2 separate regions of the Homo sapiens genome follow, and region 2 is linked to region 1. A link means that fine-mapping ties the variant in region 1 to the expression of a gene that starts in the linked region. Tissue or cell type: whole blood. Region 1 holds a variant in brackets; the other region holds the start of a gene. All regions are shown on one strand. Distances are between the middles of the regions.

Evidence for each region. PIP is the estimated chance that this variant, and not a neighbour inherited with it, causes the effect.
Region 2: CXCR1 starts here. The variant in region 1 is fine-mapped to the expression of CXCR1 in whole blood (INTERVAL, PIP above 0.99).

What each region holds. Positions count from the first base shown.
Region 1 is chr2:218,100,234-218,102,995 of GRCh38, forward strand. No RefSeq gene overlaps it. Among named protein-coding and RNA genes, the nearest start is that of CXCR2, 24 kb to the right of the region's middle. The variant C/T (reference allele first, on the strand shown) is at 1,359.
Region 2 is chr2:218,165,373-218,168,134 of GRCh38, forward strand. It overlaps CXCR1 (C-X-C motif chemokine receptor 1), which reads right to left and starts at 1,590. Exons shown (of 2, transcript NM_000634.3): 1 at 1,536-1,590.

The sequences.
Region 1 (2,762 bases):
CTGGGTAATTTATGAATAAAAGAGGTTTCATTGACTCACAGTTCTGCAGGCTATACAGGAAGCATGGCTGGGAGGCCTCAGGAAACTTACAATCACGGCAGAAGGTGAAGGGCAAGCAAGCGTGTCCTACCATGGCAAAGCAGGAGAGAGAGAGTGAAGGCGGAAGGGCTACACACTTTCAAACAACCAGATCTCATGAGAACTCACTCACTATCATGAGAGCAGCAAGGGGGTTATCCACCCCCAAGATCCAATCACCTCCCACCAGCTCCCTCCTCCAACACTGGGAATTACAATTCGACATGACATTTGGGTAGGGACATGGAGCCAAACCATGTCATCGAGTATGAGGACTAGAATGCAAAAACAAACCCATTAAGACCTTGTCTGGGTTTTCTCAGACCCTAAAGTCTGATCAAATAATAAAAGCATTCTAACACATATACCTCATACCAGGGCCCACTTAAGATTAAGAAACTTTCCAAGGCTCTAGAGAAAGTTTTCCAGACCCCAAACTCTAGTTAAAGATTAGATATAGATTGAATGAAACACTCTGGCTTGTAGCTGCACTCCCACATGTAGTCATAGAGTGTAAAATATATATAAGCACTGGGGAAAAATTTGTAACTTTGAGTTGGTCTGGTGAGTTGCTCCAACCTTCTCCCTGTAACCATTTACAGAAATAAACTCCCTTCTTTCCCAGTCTGTCTGCATCTTGTTATTGGACCCTAAGTGCAAGCAGCCGGACCTCATTCATCTGGGAACACTTATGTGTTATTTGTGTCTCTTGAAGACAGCAGATATTTGATGGGTGGTTTTTAAATCAATCCTGCCACTCTGTATCTTTTAAGTGGAGCATTTAGGCCACTTACATTCAATGTTAAAACTGGGATGTTCTGTCTGGAATTGGTTCCTTCCGGTGGGTTCTTGGTCTTGCTGACTTCAAGAATGAAGCCACGGACACTCGCAGTGAGTGTTACAGTTCTTAAAGATGGTGTGTCCGGAGTTTGTTCCTTCAGATGTTCAGATGTGTCCAGAGTTTCTCCCTTCCGGTGGGTTCGTGATCTTGCTGACTTCAGGAGTGAAGCCGCAGACCTTCGCAGTGAGTGTTACAGCTCTTAAAGGTGGCGCGTCCGGAGTTTTTTGTTCCTCCTGGTGGGTTCGTGGTCTCACCGACTTCAGGAGTGAAGCCACAGACCTTCGCAGTGAGTGTTACAGCTCTTTTTTTTTTTTAATTTTACATTTTGTTTTATTTTATCAAAGTTATGCTTGGTTCCAGATCTGTGAGACAATATTTTTAATATGGAAAACAGAACATCAACAAAACAAACAAGAAAATGACTTGCAGCCTTGAAGTA[C/T]ACTCAGGGCAAGGTAGTGTGGGTGACCATCTGATTAAAGAAGCTAAGTCAGAGCCAGAAATCACTTTATGTTTTAAGTATAATAATCAACAAGTCAGAATCACAGCCGATAATTAAACTTCTTAGGCAGTTGCTTCATCATAACATTCATTTCTGCATACATACTTTCAGGTTGGAAGTAGAAATTCTCAAATGTCTGAATAACCAATATACAAAAACAATTCTGAAGACGTTAATTAAAGAAGCACCTTCAAACAGTGTTCTCTGATTCAAAAAGTTTTAAAAGGGGCTTGGATTTGGAGGAATGCAGGAGGCAGCCAGATGGATGGGGAGAAAGGAGGATGGTCAAAGAGGCAGAGCCCTTTGCTATGAGAATCAACTTCAACCAGAAAAGATCCACTTTTACTAATTTTACAAAGTAGGATTTCACATGAGTTATCTTTAAAAATATCTTCAAAGAAAGTGTTTACTTACTTTAAAAAGAGAGTCCAAAAATCACTGTCCTAAAGAATGGATATGTTTTGTTACAAAAGTAGAGGCAATAAGAAATTTGTAGTATAGTGATGTTAAGGAAGAAAACTAACTTCTGAGCTATTGTCTACATTTCTGTTCATTTAATTCCATTCTCTCTGAGCCATCCCGGTGCCTCCTTGTTATGAGAATACCCCCTTATCTTATACCATCCAACAAACAGAATCCTGTAATTCCTTTGGTAGATTTGGGATTCTGGTTTACATAACTATTGACTATGGCAGAAACACCTAGGATACTATCTCAGTGTGTTTACATGGTTCTTTTTGATTCTACATTTAGATGGTGCCTTTTTGCTTATTATGCTTGTTACTTATAGGGAATGTGGTTTTACAAGCTAAGATCTTCTTGGCTGTGGTATTATTCCATGTAGAAATTAGCTCAGCTCCTTCTAGTCACTAAGAGACCAAAGGCTGTAGTAACTCTGTCTCCCTATCACCTCTCTGGATTTCTATGTGGTCCATGACTCCTGTAAGACTAATTTCTTTTTTTTTTAATTATACTTTAAGTTCTAGGGTACATGTGCACAATGTGCAGGTTTGTTGCATATGTATACATGTACCATGTTGGTGTGCTGCACCCATTAACTCATCATTTACATTAGGTGTATCTCCTAATGCTATCCCTCTTCCCTCCCCCCACCCCATGACAGGCCCCAGTGTGTGATGTTCCCCACCCTGTGTCCAAGTGTTCTCATTGTTCAATTCCCACCTATAAGTGAGAACCTTGAAATAGTTTGCTCAGAATGATGGTTTCCAGCTTCATCCATGTCCCTACAAAGGACGTGATCTCATCCTTTTTATGGCTGCATAATATTCCATGGCGTATATGTGCCACATTTTCTTCATCCAGTCTATCATTGACAGACATTTG
Region 2 (2,762 bases), 65 kb after region 1:
CTCCTTTGACTCCAACCTGGTCTTCTTCGGAGGTTGGCTTCCCAGTGTTCTCCACCTTCCACAACTCTAAGGCCTGGCCTGAGTGTGGGGTAAGATGGAATATGGGGAAAACACCTTAGCCCTAGCTCAACCTACAACTGCCTCCTCTCAGCCTATGTCTCTACCTCTGTCCCTCTTTAGCCTTCTCCATCCTCAGCTGTGTCTGTGCATTTGGATGTGGGGACCAGGTTGGTCTTAGACATTCAGGGAAGGGCCAGCATTAAGCAAAATGCAAGAAGGCAAACCTGTTCCCAGGTGTCCCCTTCTACTATTTCTATTCCTATGTTCTCCCTGATTCTTGTTTACCCTCCTTAAAATCTACTGGGGGAAGGAAGTGATAACAACACATTGCATTAAACTGTATATTTTAAGCCTTCTTTAAATGAGGAGCACATATTTTGTTCCTCTGTCTAAAGGAGTTTTAAGTATTTGAGAAGATAAAGTCTCCATCTTGGTCCCTGAAACCCTCCACCCCTGAAAAAATCCACAGAATCATTCAAGAGTTTTCAAATATATTTCCTATTGTGAAATAGTTTACTGAAATAAGATCTTCCCAGAAGCCCAGTATGTGAAGCAGATAAAAGCTGAGCCACTGTGGGGCAGAGTGTGCTAATCTCCGAACCCAGATGGCCCCTAAAGAGCCCCTCAAAGCTCCAGGACTCTCCAGAGAAGTCTGAAAGCCTTTGGAAAGTCACCGAGGTTGGTTGTAAAGACACCTAGCATCCAGTCTTCATTCCATCCTGATTCTACCATTAATAAGTTTCGTGTGTAATCCCAGCCCTTTGGGAGGCCAAGGCAGGCAGATCATGAAGTCAGGAGTTCGAGACCAGCCTGACCAAAATGATGAAACCCCGTCTCTACTAAAAATACAAAAAAATTAGCTGGGTGTGGTGGCGTGCACCTGTAATCCCAACTACTCAGGAGGCTGAGGCAGGAGAATCACTTGAACCCGGGAAATGGAGGTTGCAGTGAGCCGAGATCGTGCCACAGTACTACAGCCTAGGCGACAGAGTGAGACTCCATCTCAAAATAAATAAATAAATAAATAAATAAGTCTCATGACCTTGAGTGGGGTCTCGTACCCCTATAGATTTCAGTCTTCTCATCTGCAAATCGAGGAAGACAGAATCATCCACCTCTCATTTGCTGCCAGGCCTGAGGGTGTATGATGAGTCCACTCAGATCCACACATTTTAGTGTGTTCCCTCCCTACCAGTATTTGCATTTTCACTGAAGACAAAGTCTTAAGGTGAAGCAATAAACATCAAATTGGGGAATGGTCAGCCTCTTCCCACAAAAGGGCAAGGTATAAAAAGAGGGGATGAGGAGGCTGTCCTCTTCACCTGCTAACTCCATGTATGAGTGGTGGTCACAAGAGAGGAAGCGGGCAGCAGAAATCCTCAGCTCCCACAGAAATGAATACATTTTCCAAAATAAAGTCAAGCCAAGCAGCCCTACCCCACAGAAAGTCCTAGCAAACAGAGGTGGCTTCCTACCTGAAGCACCGGCCAGGTGTGTCCAACAGTAGGAGCTGCAGTCAGAGATCAGAGTGACTTAACAGCTAGAGGGCACTTGATGAATAAACGGAAATAAGGAAACCACATCAGATGACACCTCCCTTCTGAGCCCCACCCATGTCTACATTTGGGGAAGAACAGTTTAAGTCAAGGGATCACAGACTTGTGATTAGAGACTGCCAGGGTCCATATGACCAAGTGGGGGTCCCAGGTGTGAAGCTGGGGTTGAGGGTCCATTATCTGAATTCTCCACTCTATGGATGATCATTTTTATTATTTTCCTTTTCTTGAATTTATTTCCATTTGTTTATTCCTAAATTCCCTAGTATATCACCTGTGGAAGCTTGCAACTTCCTGACCAAGTATAAAGGGCGAAGGATTTGACTTACAGCAGAGACTTCAGAAGGAGTCCCCCATAGGAGGGACTTGGGGGCAATCCAGTGGGAAAGAGGAGGAGGACTGCGCTTGAGTTGTGTTTGAACAGCAGGCACTCAATCTCTACTTATTTTGCAGGCTTCTTTGAGGTGGCCTAGCTCGGATTCAAGGCATTCTCATCAAGGATGTGAGAGCAGTTACTGGGATATCCTTGGCTTCCCTGTTGGTTTGCCAACGAGAGCTCCCCTTCCTCCTTTGCCTCCAACCTGGTCTTCTTTGGAGGTTGGCTTCCCAGTGTTCTCCACCTTCCACAACTCCAAGGCCTGGCCTCAATCTCTACTTATTTTTCAGGCTTTTTGAGGGTATTTGAATGGAACACAAACCCTCCTTTGCCGCCAGCCACTCTTTCGCACAATCACTGCCAATGACCAGTTGGTTTAAATGGCCCTGAGGCTGACGGCATAGGCCACTCCCAGAGTCTGGCTGGTTAGCAGAGAGACCACAGAGCTGGGGCAGTCCATGAATGGAAGAGCTGTGGTCAAGGTCACTGCAGCCCCCATCTCAGTAACGGAGAATGGCTTCTCTGGGAACCCACCTTAGCTGCCTCCAGCAGCTAATGGCTGTCCCCTAGCTTGAGTCTTCTGGCACCTTCGTCACTTCTCCATATAACATGAACCCTGCTGTGAGGCATTTACAAGTCAGCCCTCTTCTAGCTTGGGAGCCATGAGACAGCAAGAACCTTCTTCAATTCATGTTTATGTTCTCTTTCAGGGAATATAGTAGGTGCTCAATCAATGGTTGTGGAATAAATGAAGGGAGACATTTCTCCTG